2 linked regions of the Homo sapiens genome follow. The protein of the gene in region 1 interacts with the protein of each later gene in a pairwise test. Each region holds a gene or a part of one and is shown on either strand. Other genes may lie near its edges.

Region 1 (12,668 bases):
CTCTTTCTGTCCATCCAGATCCATGACTCTTCTCCTTCCCTTCTTTGTTTCCCAGAGTAGGTGCTGTGGGTTCTAGGGCTGGCTGTGTTCAGTGTTTCTGCCTTCACTGGGTAATCTGAACATCTGTTGCCCTAGAGCTTTGCAGGAAAAGGTTAGGATTCGGGAGTTTTTCAGTCTGCTAAGCAGATTCTACACAGCTCAGGTGCCCACTGCCTGAGTCCGTGTCATGATCTTTGCACCTCTTTGTCCTAGATTCTGCCCTCATCCTCTGGCTGACATTTCCTGGGGCCTGACTGTGCCAGGAATTTCAGGGGCTGACACAGTCACTTCTTGTGGTGATTACAGGGCTGTCCTGGTACATCCGCCTTGGAGAGTATTTTTTCTAAACATTCTATTTTCTCTGTGGAGTGGGTCTACCTGCGCCACTCACCTGCCCTTTGTTTGCGTTACAGCTTTCATTTTCCCAGTCCCATGCAGTTGCGCAGTTGGAGGGGGCAGAAAACCTTGGGTGCCTGACAGGGCAGACATCACTGCAGCCACAGTAAAGGAGACCTACAGAGGGCATGGCCCTGCTGAATGGGAGCTGGAAGAGGGTATCTGTTATGGTTGGGTTCAAATCGAACCTTCAACTTGTTTTGTGTTTGTCAGTGTTTTGTTGCCAAGGCCCATAGTGATTCTTCACATCTACTTTACTTTCCTCATTCTTGGCACTTTTTCCATTTGTCATTTCTCACGTGTCTTCCATCCTTTGGGTGTTTTCCCACTTTTCTGGCCTCCGTGTTTCAATTGCTCTCTTCAACACTAGCTTACTTTAATGTGTCATGAGTTCTGCACATTAAATAGTCCGTGAGAATGAGCTACTTATTTGGAGTCAGATTTTCGTGGGCATGGACATACCCATCTGCACAGAGCTCACCTGACACCAGCGGCCAAGGCCCTGCTGAAACTCTCTTGCAGAGGAATCAGGTAGAGGCTTCACCTATACTCCCTATACTCTATGCCATTGTTTTTAGGTCTTTACCTCATAGTCAGGGTTCCTCCATTCTGTGAGGCCCTATACTGACAACCAGCCCTTCTTTACACTGATCCTGGCCCTCTTGTCCTGCCAACAAGCCAGTGGACTCGCACTGGTGTTAGACACACATTTGTGATGGGGCTGCTGCCTCCCACCAAAGTCAGCATGCACTTCACCAGCTCTTTTTTGCTTTCAGGTTTTTGGTGTGAAGCAGAACATGAGGCACCTTCTGAGCAGAGCGTTTCTGTAGAAGGAGTGTCACAGGTCAGGACTGCTGAGTCAGGTCTTTTCCAGAAAGCACACCCATGTGAGATGTGTGACCCACTCTTGAAAGACATTTTGCACCTGGCTGAACACCAGGGATCACACCTTACACAGAAACTGTGCACACGTGGGCTGTGTAGGAGAAGATTCTCGTTCAGTGCAAACTTTTACCAGCACCAGAAGCAACATAATGGAGAGAATTGCTTCAGAGGGGATGATGGAGGGGCCTCATTTGTGAAGAGCTGTACAGTCCACATGTTAGGGAGATCCTTTACGTGCAGGGAGGAAGGGATGGACTTACCAGATAGCTCTGGCCTTTTCCAGCACCAGACCACTTACAATAGGGTGAGTCCATGCAGAAGGACTGAATGCATGGAGTCTTTCCCACACAGCTCCAGTCTCAGGCAACACCAAGGAGACTATGATGGACAGATGCTTTTCAGTTGCGGTGATGAAGGGAAAGCCTTCCTGGACACCTTTACTCTTCTTGACAGCCAGATGACTCATGCTGAGGTGAGACCCTTCAGATGCCTACCATGTGGAAATGTGTTCAAGGAGAAATCAGCTCTTATTAATCACAGAAAAATCCACAGTGGAGAAATATCTCATGTGTGTAAGGAGTGTGGAAAAGCCTTCATTCACTTGCACCACCTAAAAATGCACCAGAAATTTCACACTGGAAAAAGACACTATACATGCAGTGAATGTGGGAAGGCCTTCAGCCGCAAGGACACACTTGTTCAGCATCAGAGAGTTCACACTGGAGAAAGATCTTATGACTGCAGTGAATGTGGAAAAGCCTACAGCAGAAGCTCCCACCTTGTTCAGCACCAGAGAATTCACACAGGAGAAAGGCCTTATAAGTGCAACAAATGTGGGAAAGCCTTTAGCCGTAAAGACACACTTGTTCAGCACCAGAGATTTCATACTGGAGAAAGGCCTTATGAGTGCAGTGAATGTGGAAAATTCTTTAGCCAAAGCTCCCACCTTATTGAGCACTGGAGAATTCATACCGGGGCAAGGCCCTATGAATGCATAGAATGTGGAAAATTCTTTAGCCATAACTCTAGCCTCATTAAACATCGGAGAGTCCACACAGGAGCAAGATCCTACGTGTGCAGCAAATGTGGGAAGGCCTTTGGCTGCAAAGACACACTTGTTCAGCACCAGATAATTCACACTGGAGCAAGGCCTTATGAGTGCAGTGAATGTGGGAAGGCCTTCAGCCGTAAAGACACACTTGTGCAACACCAAAAAATCCACACTGGAGAAAGGCCTTATGAGTGTGGTGAATGTGGTAAATTCTTCAGCCATAGCTCCAACCTTATTGTACACCAGAGAATTCACACTGGAGCAAAGCCTTATGAGTGCAATGAATGTGGGAAATGCTTTAGCCACAACTCCAGCCTCATTTTGCACCAGAGAGTTCACACAGGAGCAAGGCCTTATGTGTGCAGTGAATGTGGGAAGGCTTACATTAGTAGCTCCCACCTTGTTCAACACAAGAAAGTTCACACTGGAGCAAGACCTTATGAGTGCAGTGAATGTGGGAAATTCTTTAGCCGCAACTCTGGCCTCATTCTGCACCAGAGGGTTCACACTGGAGAAAAGCCTTACGTATGCAGCGAATGTGGGAAAGCCTATAGCAGAAGCTCCCATCTTGTTCGTCACCAGAAAGCTCACACTGGAGAAAGAGCTCACGAGTGCAACAGTTTTGGTGGCCCTTTAGCTGCATCTCTTAAACTTGTTTAACACCAGAAAATTCACACAAGAGAAAGGCCTTATGAATGCAGAAAATATGTCATCTTGTTCATCCTCATAGGACTCACACCAGAGCAATGCTCTGTGAGTACCCTTTGTGAGGGAACCATCAGCTAGCAGATGAGCACCGTATATTCATTCCACCCTGGGGAGATTCCTGATAAGCACCACATATGTGGGAGGCTTTCATGAGGTGTGTTGCACTTTGTAACTGTCTAGAGCTCTTGATGGAATTATATCACTGCCAGTGCCTGTGGCGGAAGCCATCTTATTGCTACCAGCTGTGTGTGTCAATCACTCCATTTTGCTCAGGGAAGGCAGACTTCTGTGCTTTCTTTCCTGTTCCCTACAGGTAATCATGAATATTTTCAAGGACTTCCCCCCCCCCCCACTTCACCCCCTACCATTGAGGGTCCTCATCTTTTCCCTCATGATTAGGTTCTGAGCAAACATGATCTAGCTCTCACCAAAAGGACCTGAGCTAGGGTCTGCTGGGATTTCCTGACACGATTTTCCATCTTCATGGACAATGTTAACTGTAAACGTGATAGCTGTGACTTACTTGTCTTACTGCCAAATCGCCCAAATTTGGAACTGCTTGTCCCATGCTGCTCTGATTTATACAGTGATAAGGGCCTATTGTGGCAGTCTTTACTCTTGGGGATTTTGTTACTGTGTAGAGTGGATTGAGAAAAGAATTGGGTTCTGTCATGAAGGGAGTAGCACCTTTTGTGGGCACCACCTTTATGTGCCTCAGAGGGGACCAAAGGATGGCAGAAAACTGTTCTCAGTCTAGTTTGACCTAATTTACACTATTGCCCTAGGCTTGCTAGGAAAGACTGAAAAAATTTTTGTGCCTAACTTTGTGGCCTGGCTGCCAGGATTTCCTGTGAGCCCAGTGAGGAGGGCATAGTTGGTGCGAAAATCTCCTGTGCTTGTGGAAGCAACATAAGTTGGGTCCCTTAACTGTCACGTACTCCCCAGCACTGTTGAGGGATTGCTGTCTTCTGTACCTGTACAGGATCAAGTCCCTGATATCCAGAACCCCATAGGCAAGTAACATTGACTGTAAGACCTCTGTAGGGCAATGTGAAAATCATGATTGCTACAGAAGCACTGAGATAATGGAGTGGGGATGACTGTGGCAAACAAAAGGAGATTCGAACATTCTAGAGGGGCATCCACAAGTCTCGGTGCAGTTATGATGGTGTGGGATGGGAGTGCATAGAAATTCTCAGGACCTTCAGACATCTGTATCTCCTGTGGCCAAGGCCACTGTCAGAGGAAATAATCTAAATGTTTGTGGATTCCTGTGTCTCCCTGGGCAGTTGACCTGCACAGACAGGAACCTCAGCAGTGACAGAAGAGAGATCCAGGGATGGGTCTTCTCTGACCCAGCCAGCATTCCGAGTGACTGAGGTGGATGTGGACATCATTGCTTACCAATTTTTACCAACATTGAGGCAGGGCTCACTCTCCTAAATTGTAGGGAGAGGAATATGGTAAAGCCAAAATAGTTGACAGATCTAACTTTCCTAGTGGAACAGTATATATAGATTTTAATGAGGAACATTTATTTAATAGCTTTATGGAGGTATGATTAACATGCAATAAACTGCAAATATGTAAAGTGTAAAATGTGCTGTTTCAGCATGTGTGTACACCTATGAAACCACCACAGTCAAGATATCCAACACAACAAAAGATTGTCCCTTTATAATCCTCAATTTTTCCTTATCTTGTTTTCCACAATTCACAAGCAACAGCAAGCATTTTCTATAATTTTATAAATGAAACCATATGGTGTGTACTTTTTAGGGGGTGGGGCTCTGGCTTTTTCAGTAAACATAACTATTTTAAGGTTAATCCATTATCTTGTTGCATGAATCAATTGTTTGCTCATTTGTATTGCTGCGTAGTATTTCAGTATTTCATTGTATACCACAATTTTTCTTCTTTGTCAACTTAATTGTTATGGATGTTTGGGTAACTTTCAGTTTTTGGCTATTACAAATAAACCTCTGAAGATTTGTGTGCAAATTATGGCTGAATGATATTCCATTCTATAAATACACCTCAGTTTCTTTATCCATTTACTTATTGAAGGACGGTTGCTTTCAAGTTTTGGCAGTTATGAATAAACCTACTACATATTTGTATAGTTTTTCTGTGGAGATGTTTTCAACTCATTTGGATATGTGCCAAGGAGTGCAATTTTCTCTGTCATATAGCATGTTTAGTCTTGTAAGAAACTGCCAAGCTGTCTTCCAAAGCGGCTGCACCATTTATTTTATTTATATATATTTTTTGAGACAGAGTCTCCACTCTGTCACCCAGGCTGGAGTGCAGTGGTATGATCTTGGTTCACTGCAACCTCCACCTATTTTAGTAGACATGGGTTTTTACCATGTTGGCCAGGCTGGTCTCAAACTCCTGACCTCAAGTGATCACCCTCCTCGGCCTCCCAAAGTGCTGGGATAACGGGGGTGAGCCACTGCAACGGGCTGTGGCTGTACCATTTTTGCATCCAACTAACAATGATTGAACATTCCTCTTGCATCTCATCCTAATCAGCATTTGGCATTTTCAGTATTTTGGATTTTAAAATGCCATTCAAATAGGTGTGTAGTGGTATGCCATTGTTGCTTTTATTTGCAATTCCCTAATAACACACAATAAGTATCTTTTTTAAAGGCAGGGTTGTTTTGTTTTGTTTTGAAATGGAGTCTTGCTCTGTTGCCCAGGCTGGAGTACAGTGGCATGATTTCGGCTCACTGCAACCTCCACCTCCCGGGTTCAAGCGATTCTCCCACCTTAGCCTTCCAAGCAGCTGGGACTACAGGCACCCGCCACCATGCCCAGCTAATTTTTGTATTTTTAGCAGAAATGGGGTTTCGCCATGTTGGCCAGGCTGGTCTCGAACTCCTGACCTCAGGTGATCTGTCTGCCTCGGCCTCCCAAGGTGCTGGGATTACAGGTGTGAGTCACTGCGCCCAGCCTGGCTGGGGTTTTTTTATGTGAGTTTCACACACCTCTGAGTAAGTGGCTTGCAGACAGAGAAGTTAACAACTTTGGCTGTTAGCTTGAACCTGTGATTTATGAATACCAAAAAGACAAATACAGAATCTAAGGAAACACATAACAGTCCTGTATACACACAGCAGCTGGCAGCCCTATTCCCGGTGTGTCCCATATACCTACCATTGACCTGAAACCCAGTTTGTACGTGCTCATTGAACATTTTGTAGAGCAGTAAATACACATCATCACACAGATTGCCTACTCATTTTTATTTTTATTTTTCGAGACGGAGTCTTGCACTGTCACCCAGGCTGGAGTGCAGTGGCGCGATCTCTGCTCACTGCAACTTCCACCTCCTGGGTTCAAGCGATTCTCCTGCCTCAGCCTCCCAAGTAGCTTGGATTACAGGCACCCGCCACCATGCCCAGATAATTTTTGTATTTTTAGTAGAGACAGGGTTTCACTATGTTGGCCAGGCTGGTCTTGAGCTCCTGACCTCGTGATCCGCCCACCTCGGCCTCCCAAATTGCTGGGATTGCAGGCGTGAGCCACCGCACCCGGCCTTCATTTTTATTTTTTGACAAGTGTTTCCATTTGTTATCTCTATCCCTCCAAACAGTTAATAAGCGATGTTTTCAAGTATGAAATAAGAAATACATATAGGAGACAGAAGCATAATGTGTCCAGGTTCCAGCACAGCCAGTCTCAACTTCATTCTTTGACTTCTCAGACTCTTGCTCAAACTCTACTGTAACCTTGCTTTTTCCCCCCTTCACATGTCACAGAGAGATTTCTGTAGGACTATTTCTGCCACTAGTTTTGAAATAACATAATCACTGTTAGTCCAAACTGCACCATCCTGTAAGCCCCCTGCCATCTCACAGACCTTGGTCAGAGTGAAGCATTCCACGGAGTGAGGGCCTTGAGAAACATCCTGCCCAACTGCCTGACTTTCTTATCACATCGTTCTGGGAAAAGATCCAAGGAAGGTCACTATCACATCCTGCCGGATAAAAGGCCAAACTGCCTCAGGAACATCTTACGCACATCCTTTGGCCGGGTGCTGTGGCTCACGCCTGTAATCCCAGCAATTTGGGAGGCCGAGGCGGGCGGATCACCTGAGGTCAGGAATTCCAGACTGGCCTGACCAACATGGTGAAACCCTGTCCCTACTAAAAATACAAAAAAATTAGCCGGGCGTGGTGGCACGCGCCTGTAAAGCCAACTACTCGGGAGGCGGAGTTCAAGAATCGCTTGAACTCCGGGAGGCGGAGGTTGCAGTGGGCCGAGATCACGCCATTGCACTCAAGGCTGGGCGACAAGAGCGAGACTCCTCCAAAAACAAAAAAAAACCCACCATCCTCCTGGGCAGCAAGTCATACCCTCCCGCCGCGCCCCCTGCCCCCCACCCCTGACCCCTCTCATCCAGGCCTATAATTGCCCCAGCCTGTAAGCAGTGAGGGGTTCTGGCACTAAGCTAGTTCTCCCCATCACAGGTCTCGTGCTGGACATAAAACCTGCATTGCTGTAGAGCTGCCAACTCTGCCTTTCTTTAACCCTCGCCTTCCCTTCAAAACCTAACAGTTATTATTAATAGATTTCTGTAATTTTCATTTCACAAGTATTTTCACAGATAATTTCAACTCCCTGTAAAATGATAACTCACTTCTCAGGAAGGAGATAAGATCATGAAAGTTCACAGTTTTTATTGGGGATAATACGTTCCCTGTGTACATATACTCCAACTATGGAATGGCACAAAATGTCCTGTCAGGAAATGGCATGTATCAGTCACTCTCATTTTCAGACAGGATTGAGACTTTTAAAATAAATGTAAAATATTTCAGACATGAAGTAATAAGTATTATTAGAATAAAAGCATTGCACTCTTGGTAGGAACACAATCACTGACTCTACAGACAGTAATGATGTTTTCTTCTGGATCCAGAGGCACAGCGTCACCCTTTCAATCTACGTCGGTATCTCCTGTCTTCTTTTGTGCAAATTCCCAGCCATGTAGTCTTTCTTTGTTCTCTTGGACCAACCATATTGAAGCTTAATAAATAGAAGTCAAAGTTTAACTGTATGTGTATTTGAAAAGCAACATATGGCTGAGAGGCATGAGTAGAGACAGAGTGCCTTTGTGGTATAGTGTGTCCCTTTGGCGGTGTAGCCGTTGAGAACTTGCTGTGCTTCACAATCCGATATCATAGGTCCCTCACATTTCTGTGAGTATCCTAGACCTTACTTCAAGAAAATCTGGTTATGTCGCCTTTAAGAGCAACCCAAGCCCCGTCCTGTCCGTGGAGTCCGGCACTCTGTTTACCAGCTCCCCTGACGGTGCCACTGAGCCTCTATCCGCCATATAAGGACTGACCAACGCTCTAAGGCAAGTCCAGAAGCGGTGTCGAAACTTCATAACCCAGAAGACACTGCGGTTCTCGGCAGCGCGACTGACCCAATGAATGTGCAGGAAGGAACCTTTGCGTGCGTGCGTGCGTGCGTGCGTCCGTCCTCGTGCTCGCGCATCGTAGGAGGGCGGGACTTCCGGCGTCCTCTTGCCGTGGTTGATTTGATTTTCTCTGGTGTTTTCACTAGTTCCGGCCTTTGGCGCTCTATGACGTCACCGAAGTGACGGAGCGGAAAAGCGCGAGAAGCGGCTTGGTTCCTTGTACGCAGAGGCGGTAGTGACACAGGCACAACTGACAGTGGCAGAAGCTCAGCTGACAAGGACTGGGGACGGCGGTGTCCTTGTCTTGCCTTTGTCGCCCCCGCCCCTCTCTTCCCTGGCTGGACTTGCGGAGTCCCCGCCGAAGAACCCGAGGTGGGTGCCCCGTCCCAGGCCCCCCCCCACCTCCGCCCGACCCCTCCTTCCAGTGCTGAAGCCCATAGAAGGGGCCCTGCAGGTCAGGCCCCTTGTCTCGAAGAGAGGGGCGTTCCTGTGTGGGGTCCCCGTATCAGCTGGTTTGATGCAGCCTCAGAGCTCCCTTCGGGGATCTCAGGTTCAGAGCATGGAGGTGCTGCCAAGTGGGCCGCGTCGGGGAGCCCGGAGTGTGGGTTGTTTCTGCGGGAAAGAGAGGGTTTTGTGAATTTTCTCTTGGAATGGCAGCCTGAGCAGCCGGTATAACCATGGAAGGTTGTCAAGGGAAGACCAGTGGGAGGGGCAGGTCCAGAGTTAGAACGAGCAGGATGGGGAATTGACACAGAGAGACCCAGAAGAGGCCACTGCAGTGGATCCCAGAGGCTGCACCAGAGCCGTGGTATAAGAGGGACAATGTGATGGGATTCTGGATAGACCTGGAAGATAGAGCCAACAGGTTTTCCTGCCGTATCAGATATGTCTGTGAGCAAAAATAGGGAGTGAAGGGTCATTTTTTTTTTTTTGCCCGAACATCTGAAAGAATGAAGTTGGGGAAGTCAGCAGCATGAGAAGTAGGTTTCATGGAGAAGATCATGGGTTGGAGTTTGGCCAGTGTGATTCTCAGGCGTCTCAAGTTGAAAATGTCACATGGGTAGGGGGACAGAAAGGTGTGGAGTCTACAGAGGAGAACTGGTGTAGATTCTTCAAAAGAATAGAGGGTGGCCGGGCGTGGTGGCTCACGCCGGTAATCCCAGCACTTTGGGAGGCCAAGGCGAGCGGATCACAAGGTCAGGCGTTCAAGACCAGCCTGACCAACATGGTGAAACCCCGTCTTTAGTAAAAATACAAAAATTAGCCGGGGGTGGTGACGCGCGCCTGTAATCCCAGCTATTCGGGAGGCTGAGGCAGGAGAATTGCCTGAACCCAGGAGGTGGAGATTGCAGTGAGCCAAGATCGCGCCATTGCACTCCAGCCTGGGCGACAGAGCGAGATTCCGTGTCAAAAAAAGGTGCGGAGCGCGGGTCTCTTCCGCGGAAACTGACATTGCGTTTCCGTTGTCGGCCTCCCGCTGCAGGAGCCATATATTGAAGACCATGTCTGGAAGCTTCTACTTTGTAATTGTTGGTCACCATGATAATCCAGTTTTTGAAATGGAGTTTTTGCCAGCTGGGAAGGCAGAATCCAAAGACGACCATCGTCATCTGAACCAGTTCATAGCTCATGCTGCTCTCGACCTCGTAGATGAGAACATGTGGCTGTCGAACAACATGTACTTGAAAACTGTGGACAAGTTCAACGAGTGGTTTGTGTCAGCATTTGTCACCGCGGGGCATATGAGGTTTATTATGCTTCATGACATAAGACAAGAAGATGGAATAAAGAACTTCTTTACTGATGTTTATGATTTATATATAAAATTTTCAATGAATCCATTTTATGAACCCAATTCTCCTATTCGATCAAGTGCATTTGACAGAAAAGTTCAGTTTCTTGGGAAGAAACACCTTTTAAGCTGAATGGAGAAAATTCCAAAATAAATTATATCACCACAATGGTGTATACTCAGGAATGTGTACATTGTAAATTACTTGATTAAATAGCCTGGAAATCTTTTGTGTATTCTCAGCTTATCTAAACTTAATGAAATTTCTTTTATATTTAAAAATAGTACATTCTGTCTCATGTCACATATCAGTAGATCAATTAGTATTTCCTTGTGAACAATGTTATTTATAAAGAACTCATTATCAATAATAATTAATTTCTTTCTTTTTTTTTTTTTTTTGAGACGGAGTTTTGCTCTTGTTGCCCAGGCTGGAGTGCAGTGGCACAGTCTCGTCTCACTGCACCCTCCGCCTCCCAGGTTCAAGCAATTCTGCCTCAGCCTCCCGAGTAGCTGGGATTACAGGCTCCCACCACCATGCCTGCCTAATTTTTTTTGTATTTTTAGTAGAGACGGAGTTTCGCCATGTTGGTCAGGCTGGTCTTGAACTCCTGACCTCGTGATCTGCCTGCCTCGGCCTCCCAAAGTGCTGGGATTACAGGCATGAGCCACCACTCCCGGCCATGAAATATTTTTACTTAAAAATTGGGAATAAGCTTTCTTTTTCTTTCTTTCTTTCTTTTTTTTTTTTCTTTTGAGATGGAGTCTGGCTCCTGTTGTGCAGGGGCTGGAGTGCAGTGGCACGATCTTGGCTCACTGCAACCTCCACCTCCCGGGTTCAAGCAATTCTCCTTCTTCAGCCTCCCAAGTAGCTAGGATTACAGGCATGCACCACCACGCCTGGCTAATTTTTGTATTTTTAGTAAAGACGGGATTTCACCATATTGGTCAGGCTGGTCTTGAACTCCTGACCTCGTGATCCGCTCGCCTCGGCCTCCCAAAGTGCTGGGATTACAGGTGTGAGCCACTGCGCCTGGCCATGAAATATTTTTTACTTAAAAATTGGGAATAAGCTTTTTTGTGTGTGTGTGTATGTTTTTGTTTTTTTGTTTTTGAGATGGAGTCTTGCTCCTGTCATGCAGGCTGGAGTGCAGTGGCACGATCTTGGCTCACTGCAGCCTCTGCCTCCCGGGTTCAAGCAGTTCTCCTTCCGCCTCCAGAGTAGCTGGGATTACAGGCATACGCCTGGCTAATTTTTGTATTTTTAGTAGAGACAGGGTTTCGCCATTTTGGCCAGGCTGGTCTTGAACTCCTGACCTCAGGTTATCTGCCTGCCTCGGCCTCCCGGAGTGCTGGGATTACAGGTGTGAGCCACTGCGCCTGGCTGGGAATAAGCTTTCGACTTGCCCAATTCAGATAAATTGTTTTTTTTTTTTTTTTTTTTGACGTGGAGTTTTGCTCTGTCGTCCAGGCTGGAGTGCAGTGGCGCTTGGCTCACTGCAACCTCTGCCTCCTGACTTCAAGCGATTCTCCTGCCTCAGCCTCCCAAAGTGCTGGGATTACAGGTGTGAGCCACCATACCCGGCCCAGATAGGTTGATCTTATAACAATCCAGAAACAAATGTCATAGTCAAGATTTGGTAGATAGATTTAAAACTAAAATATTCTGCCATTGGAAGTGAAATGTCATAGCACATACGTGGACGTTATGCATTTAGAGATGTTATAAAAATGTATTGGCAGTATACATAGCACTACTCAAGAAGCCAAAGAAACACTTGTGCAGTGCTAAGTGTCACATGTCTGCTTCTGCCAGAGGCTAGGAATAGTGATCTTGCTATAATGTGAGAACCTGAATCATGTTTGTAAAATAGGAGGCTGGGAGCAGTTCCAGGCCACAGTGAAGTGTGTTGCTTCTGTCACTTTATATTCTTATATTTCCTTTCCCTCAGACAATCAACTGTTGATGCCTGTACTTGTGAAAAGTTGTAAGGCAATTTTTAGGGTTGTTGTCAAAGAAAAGCTTGGATTACATTAACATTTGTACTCAGCCTTTTAGGCAATACACCAGAGGGGGCTGGGAATTGTCTGTTTGTTCCTATGATAAGTAGATCTTACTGTAAAATAGTAAATGTCCATTGAAAAGCAAGTAACACAACCTGTGCTAACTGGGAGCACTTGAACAATTTTGTTCCATTCTGAATAACTTTTCAGCAAGTAATTCTAAGCTTTGTCTTATATCCTTGTGTAAAATTGCTACCTTCATTTTTACCCTATTTGATTTCTTAAATGGTTTGTTCAAGAAAAAAAAAAAAAAAAAAAAGAATAGAGGGTGTAGATTGGACCGGGTCCTGAGGATCCAA
Region 2 (11,845 bases), on another chromosome or scaffold:
AGAAAGTAGAAGCTATGAAACTTTTCATCCATTCATTAAGAAACACGTATAACATTTGCATACCAGGCTGATATCTGCCATCCTTACCACAACTAAAAATAAGATTTCTCAAAGAAAAAACAGTTTATTTACAAAGGAAGCTGACCTATATGAAAAGAAGATATCAGTGCTTTGCTATTTCAGAGCTTAAAGAAAGAATAAATTAAAATGGTAATGCTTGACCAAATTATCTTCCAAAATAAAGGAAAGGTCACTAAAAGTTGACCTTTCCTTTGAGTTGGAGAAAACTAAAACACTGCCATGAAAAGTTTTTGCACTCAAAAACTGCAACTGGTGATTGATGAATCACATAGATGCAACTGACCTGTATGTAGCAATTGATAAATCCTAGCTATCATTTTCTTTGGTAATAATAGTAAGAAAAACTATCCTTCACAATCAACAAATCTCTCATTTTGGGAAAAACTGCTTGCAGCACTAGTCTTCTTATTACAAGTTTGTGACTGTGCCCTTAACAATACCACTGCCTCTACCAGAACGCCAATCACACCATCTGCTGTTTGGGCAGCAGCAATTCTTAACACCAATACCAGGTATCACACCTTTAACAGCAAATCCCAATACTAGCAACCAAAACAACCAAACCAAAACACTTGGTTTATGGATTTCATCTACACACCCAGCCAACAATCCAACTATCCATATATCCACCTGACAAAACTCTGCCCCTGATCCATTTATTAAGAACTATGTGCTGGGCACCGTGCAGATACTAACACTCTTCTCTACCTGCAGTAGGTTCTCCAAAGCTAAGAGAAGTCCAGAGGTCTACCTCCCGTAAGGAATGGTGCATACCATACCAAAGTACAGAGTTTGCACCAATTATGAAAGGGGAGACCCTATTAAGCAAATTACAAAGCACCAGTCACAAAACCATATGCATTTAGGACAACAGTTCTTAACCCTGGCTGGCATATTAATCACCTAGGGAGCTTTAAAATAATGCCAATGTCTAGGCCTTATCCCAGACCAATTAAATCAGAATCTCTGGAAGTGGGGCCCAGCACGGATATATTTTCTTAAAGCTTCTTAGGTGATTCCAACTTGCAGCCAGGGTTGAAAACCACCAAGTTAACTATTTCCAGAGTGCTATTCCTGAAATCCACAAATCTATTAGATGGTACAAAGACCACAAAACTCTCCCTCCCATCCACTGCACCTGTCATCTGGGCTGTATTATAACGCTACATCAATAAAATGTTATTTTAATATTATGGTCCAATTATTTATTTGTTTATAGCAATGAAATATTAAACAAGAGAGGATTTTAGGTCATGCACCATCCTCCCAATGCCCCCCGCCCCCACCTATTCTGAGAACCAGAAGGGCATATGGTTCTAGCAGGGAGGAAACTGTTGAAAAGCCCTTGCTCTTGCTTAGGAGAATGGAATTGGCAGTGTCCAGGCAAGAAGCAGCCTCAGCTCAGTAACCTGACAGGAGGGAACCTTCATAGTTCAGGCATGATTATCAAACTCTTTGTGCTCTTAAAGGAGAGTAATTATAGGCATGTGAAAAAAGGGAAGCACTCCCTGAGGAACTCTTCCTCACATGCTTCCCAAGAGGCAGTAGGGCCATTAAAAATTCCATGATGAAGAGGAAAAACAGCCTGGGAACAGCCAGGAGGCAATACAGCAAATTAATACACCAGCCCTCCTCGGGGAAAGCTGTGATAAAACAGGAAACACTTCTCTCTTTGCAAAATAAAATTATACCACTAATGATAACATTGTCGCCACACACACACACACACACACACACACACACACACACACACACCATGCTAATGATGCATGTGAAATTTCCAATGCTGCCCAGGTGCTTTGAAAGAAATGTTTCCCTACTACAAATAAAATGGGACAAGAAAAAGACACAATTTCCACTGGAAACAGTTTTTAGTATAGTCATTCACCTGCCTCTTCCCTGCCACTACTCCTTCACACTCCTCCTTGGTGCCAGGCTTTTGCTAAATGATCCACTCTTTGCAAAGCCTACTGCCCAGTTCTGAATCCAATCTCATCAGTCTGCCACACTGGAGCTAGACGGTTCCATCTTCACTAACCCCTTGCTGGGGAGGAACGATTACAAAGGAGTGACCAGTTGCCCTGAGAGCTCAGTATGTCATCATTCACATTTTCTAAAAATTGCATAGAAGTCACTTGCGCTGATCATTTCCCATGAAGCAGTGGTTGCCAAGCTTTATTGAGGTGCACCCTCATGAGTAAAAAATCTGAAAAAAAATTATGTATGTAGTACATATACATAAAATATAAATACGTGCTACTAGACACATATGTATAATTTAAAACAAAAAAAATTTTGCTATAATTTTTTTGCTATAAATAAATGTAAGTTTAAAAATTTTCTTTCCCTTTCCCAAAGAACCTTCATGTATGCAACCCACTTGGTATCTACTGCCCTGGGTATGACGTCTAGAAGTAAGGACAAAGACGATGCATGATTGTCCACATTCTCTTTCCTTTGCTTTCAGCAATGGTCTAAAACAATAAGCAATATTACCCTAGAGCTGAGCATACCAGAAGCATAGTAGAGACTTCCTCAGGTTTCCAAGTTCAGCCACAAACACTGCCAGGCAAAAGAGTGAAGACAGTGGTATGGATAATGAGATACACAAAGAAACAAGAAGCTGATGCCTAGTCCAGCCACAGGATAAGGCTTTTAAAGGAAACAGGAAACCTGACAAAAGTACGAATACTGATCTCAGCACAGCACAGCTCTAGGTAGCAGAGGTAAAGAGAGGAGGGAAAGTAATCCACTTTCAGCATTCTGACATGATATCATGCTACTCAAATCATTTTCCCAAACAGTATACACAGACATTATTTTATTTGGTATTAAGACAAAAAGCTAAAGGACTGTTTTCCTATGGATTAAAATCCTGTTGTCTTCTATGACAGCTTGAGCACAACCACCTCTAAAAAGATCTCCCTGAGCCTTGACATTAGGGGCCCCTCCTCTGTGCTTTTTCAAACCTTTATTGTAGTTGTCAACTTCCATACCTGACTTTCCCATGAGAATGTAAGCTCCTTGAGGGCAGTATCTAAACAAAGAGCTGGCTCATAGTAGGGTTCCAGCAAACGCTGAATGAATTAATGATGAATAAACATCATGCTACTGAAGGAAAGGCCTTACTACTAATAGTTTATATCATTCCACAATTTTCCACATTCTTTTCTTTTTTTTTTTTTTTTTTTTTGAGACAGGGTCTCACTCTGTCATCCAGGCTAGAGTGCAGTGGCATCATCACAGCTCACTACAACCTTGACCTCCTGAGCTCAAGTGATCCTCCCACCTCAGCCTCCCAAGTAGCTGAGACTACAGGTGTACATCACCAGACACAAATGATTTAAAAAAAAAAAATTTTGTAGAAACAAGGTCTCACTCTGGTTCAACATTCTTTTTTTTTTTTTTTTTTTTTCTTTTCTGAGACGGGGTCTCGCTCTGTCCCCCAGGCTGGAGTGCAGTGGCGCGATCTCAGCTCACTGCAAGCTCCGCCTCCCGGGTTCACGCCATTCTCCTGCCTCAGGCTCCTGAGCAGCTGGGACTACAGGCACCCGCCAGCACACCTGGCTAATTTTTTGTATTTTTAGTAGAGACAGGTTTTCACCGTGTTAGCCAGGATGGTCTCGATCTCCTGACCTCATGATCCGCCCACCTCGGCCTCCCAAAGTGCTGGGATTACAGGCGTGAGCCACCGCGCCCGGCAGTTCAACATTCTTAATAACACCATTTGTGATGGTCTCTCTTTTCAAAAGACATTCCATACAGAAATACCACTTCTTCAGTAGAAAGACCTGGCAGTAGGTTATGGTGCAAAATTTATTATTATAGCCCATAGTAGAAGTTCTAACTGTATCCATGAAAGTAACTTCTTTGTGCAGCCTGAACCTCAAAAGCTATGAACATAACCATTTAAGAACTTATTAGGAATAAAAAAGAGTCATCAGAACCTTGGAAAGAAATTCTTTGTGCCACCAGAAACAGTACAACTTCTAGGGTCCAGCCTATTAGCTACTCTTTTCTGCATAACAGCCCTGTAGGGGGTGCTACAATTAAAACCATATTTACTTCCCATGTCACCTAAAAGAATTTATATTTGTAAGGAGTCACTCGTTTGACTAATATATGTTAATGCCTAACAAGTCCCAGATACTGTGTTAGGTGTTATGAAGTTATCAGGGAACAAGACAACATCCCAGTACTTTGAAGCTTATATTCTAGTGGGAGAGACTGAGGGATAAAGTGAAAAAGAAAAAAATTAAAAAAGAAAAACCAAACCAACTAAAATAAACTAATAAGCAAATCCAATTCAGACTGTGATAGAGCCATAAAGGAAACAAACAGATAACGAGCAGGAAGTGCTGGAGGTGGCCCCTTAGACGGGATGGTCTGAGTGGTCCTCCTTGACGAGGTGGCACCTGAGCTGAGACAAGCAGCAGCTCAAAGACAGTTTTCCAGTCAAAGGGAAGAAGTGCAAAGTTTCAGCGGCAGGAAAGGACTGCTGCAATTTTTGAAGAACAAAACAGAACTCCCTAGTACTGCTGGATCTCTCTCCCACAGAGGGAGAAAATTATACGAAAGGAGGCTGTACATGTAGGGAGAAGTCAGATTATGCAGGGTATTGCAGGCTCATGGCAAGGAACATTAATAATGTTGTTTGAAGATGGGGCTTTTAGCAGCAGAAATAAAATGAAATATGAGCCAGAAGACTTAGGTCAAAGTTGAGACTTAATCACATACTAGCCTTGGACCACAGGAAAGATACTTCACTGCTCTGCCTCAGTTTCTACATCTGTAAAACATCTATTTACCTCAAAAGATTGTCAGGATCAAATTGGATACTGTACACAAGCATACTCTATAATTTGAGGGGTAATAGAAAGGAATATAGTATTGTCCAGAAGCAAATAACCGCTACTAAAAGACAATTACCTGGCAGAGCAGTGTGCTGGTGAACACCTTCGGTGAGAAGCATCGGCAAGAACATCCAGGGAGTAAAGGGGAGACAGGGGATTGAACTGCAGGAATGAATAAGACTATTTTAGTAAGGCTTACATGAAACGGACCTGATCCTAAAGGGTAACCTACATTTGATTACTTTTCCCCTTTGACTATCCAACTCTTGTTATACCAAACACAGGCACTGTTCAGTAAAGTCACACATATTTCATAGTTTGCCTATGAATGTACCAAACCTGATCTAGCACACCTCGGAAAAAAAAAGCTATTCCTTATTAAACAACAATTTTTCAAAAACTTCTGACATACAATAGTCACTTAAATGGCAGAAGACAGTTTTTTCCACATGATATAACAGGAACTTGTGCCTGCTGATTATCAACTATGTATCAGCCCTTGTTCCCAAGAAGATTAGCATGAAATTACCTTTTCATTTCCTTATCCTGGCAAATGTTTCCAAGAATAACCGGTTGACACATAACAGCAGCATAGTATTGTGGAAAGAGAACTAGACTAAGAATCAGAACACCTTTTAGTTCCAATCTACCACTGAGATACTGGGTGTTAAAAATTACATAACCTCTGAGCTTTACTATCCTTATCTGTTAAATGAATATATCACTATCTGTCTTACCTAATCACTCCATCACCTAGGCTGGAGTGCAGTGGTGTGATCTCAGCTCACTGCAACCTCCACCTCCCGAGTTCAAAAAATTCTCCTGCCTCAGCCTCCCAAGTAGCTGGGATTACAGGCGCCTACCACCACACCCAGCTAATTTTTTTTTTTTTTTTGTATTTTTAGTAGAGACAGGGTTTCGCCATGTTGGCCAGGCTGGTCTCGAACCCCTGACCTCAGGTGATCCACCTGCCTCAGCCTCCCAAAGTGCTGGGATTACAAGCATGAGCCACTGTGCCAGGCCTGCCCTACCTATTTTACAGGGTTATTATGAGGGCTAAATGAAATATTGCTTTCAGAGTATAATTTCAGTTTCTCATCTGCAAAACATCTATTTGACTTCAAAAGGTGGCTGTGAGGATCAAAGGAGATCCCTCACTTTATGTTTGCTAGCTTTCTTTGGACTTTTCCCACAACATAACAGTCCTCTCTAAAAAGTTTAGAACTTAATACCCTCTGACATACAAAGACTGGAAGAACCCGGAATGATAACTTCAAACTTGTTTTATGAGAATACAAACTAAGCAACTGTTCTATCTGCCACAGAGGTTCCAATCTTGGTTCTATTAGCTGTATCACTTTGGGCAAATAGTTTGAATCTTACAGATCTCCAGTTCGTCATTTGCAAATAACGGATCTGGATCAGGTGACTGCCACAGGTCCCCTTCTGCCTTTGGATCCTCTGATGCAAACATGATTAGTGCTCTAGCTTAGTGTTCCCCAAACTGCAGTCTCTCACATACCACCTTCATGACTTTCCTTATCTGCCTACAACCTGTACTACTGTTTACTTATTATTTTTCCTCATATCAATTATTTTTGCTCAGCTTTGTCCTTACTATATTTCCGTGAAATAACAGGCTTGATACCATAATTACATCTTTTCCAATGTACACTATAATACATAACTTAAAAATTGGGCATCTATATGCCATCTAAAATCATCTCATACATATACACCAGTTATGTCTTCTACCACTCTAGTTCATTTTGAAACAGCAAATTCATAATGAAGATTCCAAGTCTAAAATGTGGATCGTGTATATCAACTCAGTAAGCTACTAAGTTGTTAAAAAAAAAAAACAAAAAAACCCACAACAAACAGGAAGCCTACAACTTTTCACCTGTCAGTGTTCATCTATTTTACAACTAATCACCAAGATAATGCAATCCTCCAAAAAAATCACAAAGCTTCACACATAAAGAAACATATCGATAACCACTGTGAGTTAATTTTTAAATTGTGAGCCCTCCACATGGGCCTAAATATGCCAAGGGGCCCCTCAGGGGGTAGCCAGGGAAAAGACTAAGAAGGAGAGGCTCTAAGGCAGGGGTCCCCAACCCCGGGGCCGCACAGCAGGAGGTGAGCTGTCAGCAAGCAGCTGCTCCCCATCGTGGGCATTACCGCCTGAGCTCTACCTCCTGTCAGATCAACAGCCACATTAGATTCTTATAGGAGTGCAAACCCTACTGTGAACCGAGCATGAGAGGGACCTAGGTTGTGCACACCTTATGAAAGCCTAATGCCTGATGATCTGTCATTGTTTCCCATCACCCCCAGGTGGGACTGTGTAGTTGCAGGAGCACAAGCTACATTATGACCAGTTGTATAATTATTTCATTATATATTACAATGTAATAACAACAGAAATAAAGTACACAATAAATGTAATGCATTTGAATCATCCCAAAACCACCCCCCTCACCACGCCCCCAACCCGGGTCCATGGAAAAACTGTCTTCTACAAAAATGGTTCCTGGTGACATAAGGTTGGGGACCACTGCTCTAAGGCTTTGACCCCACTTCACCCAAAGCAGCTCTACCTTCTGCTCCATACGTTTAGGCTTCAACATAGTACTTCTCAACGCAGGATTCTGATGTTGAACTAAACCATATGCAAATCAGATTCATTCTGCTTTCTTACTGCAAAGTTCAAAACTAAAATAAAAACAGGATTCCTATGAAATATATGCTACAAGAAACTAATGATCACAGTTGAACCTACAAAGAGGAATTAGCTGCAGTTTTTACCAGTAAGTGTTGGATACTCTTAGAAAACGGTTCTCCAAGAAAATCAAAATAACAAGAAAGAGGAAACCTTACCTCATGTGCACAAGCAGAAATGTGAGGAAAATCAGAAGCCAACGCTTTATTCTTTCTAAAGAAAAGGAAACCAAATGATAAAATAAAGATGACAAAGAAAAATGATCTTACCTGATTTCGTTCTCTTTTCCCAGCTGATGGTAACCAGAAACTAAAGAGAGGGAGAGAATAACAGGAAAGAAAACAATAAAAGAAGTGATAGGAAAATTACAGAAGGGAGAAGAAGATAAGATGTTGGAATAATTAAGTAAAGACAAAGAAGGGAATAGAGAAAAGATGTAATCAGAGGAGGAGAAAGAGATTAAATGTATGTGAATGTTTTGCAAAAACAAAAACAAAAAAAAACCTCTTCAAAGGAAAAAGGCTTGTAATGGAATGTAAAAGACTGAACAACAGAAATAAACCCAAGATTACACTGTGACACCAATGATCTCTCAGCTGTGCAGTGACAAGAGTCTCAACTCATGAAGGGCATAAACCACACCCACATCTTTATTTTCTATGTAAAATTAGCCCGAGTTGGATGTGTATAGGATCATAACTGGGTACTGACCATGATGCATACAAGATATATGAAAGAACCAACCATTTTAGGGGACAAGGCTGTCACAAGAATTGGCAGAATTATTTTCCTGTAGCTACATACAGGCTTCCTACAGCACTCACCACAGTAATTAGAACAAAAAGATATTTCACAGGTTGGGCGCAGCGGCTCACACCTGTAATCCCAACACTTTAGGAGGCCAAGGTGTGCAAATCGCTTGAGCCCAGGAGTTCAAGACCAGCCTGAACAACATGGCTAAACTCTGTCTCTACAAAAAATACAAAAATTAGACAGGCGCAGCAGCATGCGCCTGTAGTCCCAACTACTCAAGAGGCCAAAGTGGGAGGATTGCTTGAGCCTAGGAGGCAGAGGTTGCAGTGAGCCATGACTCTGCCACTGCACTCCAGCCTGGGCGTCAGAGCCAGACCCTGTCTCAAAAAAACAGATATTTCCCTATGAAAAGGTCTAAAAATGGGAAGAGAATATAGGAGGATAGAGGCAATCATCCATTTTGGAAAAAAAAAAATTTAGGGACAGAAAAATTAGTTTAAAATAAACATCTTTACTGGAGGCTACTAATGCAGCATCTGTAGGTATAAAAAAACAATACAGTGAAACTAGTCTAGAAAGGAAAAGAAAATCACTGCCACAGGTTTAGGATGTTGCCATATTTAACTGTTACAACGTACAAATCTTTAAGATCTCTTTGAACTCTGAAGCCTGATTTCTAAGTTGCTCCATAAAACTCCCCTCTGCCTCCTCCTCCAAGGAGCAGACTAGCACAGCCAGTAAATACATAAGCACTTACTCTTTCTGCCGAGGGTCACTAATGATATGGCTTATCCTCTCAGTCCCCAAAGTGTTTATGCTGGTCTCCTAAAAAGAAAAGGCAGACAAGAGTATCATCCAACCACAGAAACAAACATATAAAGTACAATATCAATCTTTCCCATAACTGTGCCAGCTAAGGCAACCTCAAAAGGCACATGTTAAAAGTCAATCTTAAAATAAAACAGCAACTATACTTCTTTTTATTGGAATCCATCTTAAAAGTATTACATGTTACCCTACATTTATTATTCTCCAGTGATCCAAAAGTCTTTATAAATACATCATAGACACTGTTCACCATATATGGTATTTTAATAAGTACTATACCTCCTGTAACTACTGAAGTATATAGGAGTAAAAATCCTTTTTTAGAAAATTCAACAGTAGCCAATTTTTAACAGGCCAACACACCAAGCTTCCTAGAGAGCTACGTGATTTGATTATAGTTCCAACAGCCTTCATCCTGGGACATTACCAAATCCTCACTGGTAAAATGTAAATATCTGCTGACTAAATATAAATACATCAAGAGAATTTTGTGACTTGCAAAAATTGTTACTCTGTACTTTGTCCCTCAAACATCATCTCATGAAATAAAAATAGAAATTTGTATAAAATTGATTCCTAAATTCAGGGTTCTCAAGATTATAGTGTAAAAGCTTACCCATAACACCACAAAGAGTTCAGAAACGAACCATTTCCAAAAAATTGGAAAACGGCAATTCACTCTTCATTTAACTTGAGTACATTCACAATGCTTACCTACCATGGCACCTGGGAAAGCATACCAACACACATCTGAGTAACTGTTGTGTTGAGAGAACACAAGTCACGGGCGTGAATGCCAAGAACATCAAGGCTGTTCTTCAAACACATTTGTGTCTATATTCATCTATGTGTGTGGACCGTGCTAAACATCAGGCTACACATTTCAGCAGAACTGGCTGTAGAAAAATTACTCTGAGGTCAGAGTCCGGGCGGTAGTGGAGTTAAATGAGAAGTTTTCATATACTATATTCTTCATGTTCTGCATTTCTTATAGCTATGCCTCCTGGTCACAGACAGACATGGTAGGGGGGCCAAGGGAAAAGATGGGTGAAAAATGAGCTATTTGTTACAGCAGAAAAATTATTAACTTAAAGTGCCGTAATGTTTAAATTTACAGTTTATTACTGTGTAAATTACAAGCAGTACTTTGTGTAATTAGCAGCTCACTGGCAGGGAGCTGTGAATGAAACTCATTATTTATGATTACAATTTAGAAAAGCAGAAGAGAGATGGGGGAGGGGGAAGAAGGGGGGCAGAGCGGTGACCTCTTCTAGAAATGATAAATATCCCTTTAAGGTGATGAAGATGAATTAAACAAGTAAATATTATCCTATTCATTTGAAATCATTAAAGGCACATCCAACAGGCCCTCACTCCCTTCCAGGCAAGCTAAAGGGAAACCTTCAAGATAAAGTGACTTGTTTCCATGGAAGTGGATGGCTCTTATTTTATAAGAGCTGAAAGAAAGTAACACAGGTGGCAGGGGGAACATTATCTGTCAAGCCTAAACAATAAAAGTAAAACCTCTCCTTCTTCCACCCCATGTACTGCTATTCTGCTAGCTATCCCTGTTAACAATAAGCTCCCAAAACAGAAAAAGCAGCGTTTTGTCTGTAAAATGAGTAATTTGAAAGGTATCAGTTTTCCAATAATCAAATGTCTTCTAATTCAAGATTTGAACTTGAGGCCGGGCACGGTGGCTCATGCCTGTAATCCCAGAACTTTGGGAGGCCGAGGCGGGTGGATCACCTGAGGTCAGGGGTTTGAGACCAGCCTAGCCAACATGGTAAAACCCCATCTGTACTAAAAATACAAAAAAATTAGCCAGGCATGGTGGGGCGCCTGTAATCCCAGCTACTTGGGAGGCTGAGGCAGGAGAATTGCTTGAACCTGGAAGGCAGGAAGTTACAGTGAGCCGAGATCGCACCATTGCATTCCAGCCTAGGTCACAGAGCGAGATTCCATCTCAAAAAAAAAAAAAAGATTTGAACTTGAATTTAAAGATAAAAAGAAATAAGAATCTTGGGCTCGTCTGGAAATAAACAGTCTCATTTCTTTTGCATGCTTAAAACTTCAGAAAACTGTTCCCTGGTCAGACTATAAAACAGTATCCCCTTAAGGGAAGCCAGACTGTGGCACATATTGTGCCACCTAGCAGGCATTCTAAATGCTTACCAAGTGAACAAACAAATTAATGCTCTCAATGCCTCTCCCTTCCTTATTCTTTGCCCACCACCATCTTCTCTGACTGAGGATGAGCCCTGTCTTAATTTATTCCTCAATCTCAAAGTAGAGTAAAAAATAAAATTCAATAAAAATGTAAAAAGATAAAAGTAGACCTGGGTTCAAATCTCTATTCTACCATTCCTATCTGGGTAACATCAGACATTCCTTAACTTCTTCGAACCTAAGTTTTCCTCATCTGCTGAAGGTGCTTGCCCTTGTAGGTTGCTGGAAGGATTAAATGAGCTGAGTCCCTAGTACCATCCCTGGCAAAGGCAGAACTGAATAAACAGCAGATAGTTCTCCCTCATGGCCAAGGAGGGGCTCTTGAAACTCAGTAACAGTTTTGTTTTTTTTTTTTAATGAATTCTAGGATGAAAGA

The links.
Region 2: the proteins of ZNF547 (region 1) and GPATCH2L interact in binary tests that used the Homo sapiens proteins (3 or more experiments, as listed by UniProt).

Annotation. Positions count from the first base shown.
Region 1 is NC_000019.10:57,354,819-57,367,486, forward strand, and holds the start of ZNF547 (zinc finger protein 547), read left to right. Parts: upstream 1-8,732; 5' UTR 8,733-8,885; intron 8,886-9,996; exon of another isoform or gene 9,997-10,015; coding exon of another isoform or gene 10,016-10,438; exon of another isoform or gene 10,439-10,587; intron 10,588-12,668. Other genes in the region: ZNF304 (zinc finger protein 304), read left to right, coding at 453-593, 1,212-3,031; TRAPPC2B (trafficking protein particle complex subunit 2B), read left to right, coding at 10,016-10,438. UniProt on the Homo sapiens protein: May be involved in transcriptional regulation.
Region 2 is NC_000014.9:76,174,015-76,185,859, reverse strand, and holds part of GPATCH2L (G patch domain-containing protein 2-like), read right to left. Parts: exon of another isoform or gene 10,340-11,845; intron 9,238-10,339; coding exon 9,170-9,237; intron 7,969-9,169; coding exon of another isoform or gene 7,873-7,968; coding exon 7,818-7,872; coding exon of another isoform or gene 7,716-7,817; exon of another isoform or gene 5,838-7,715; intron 5,097-5,837; coding exon 5,011-5,096; intron 1-5,010.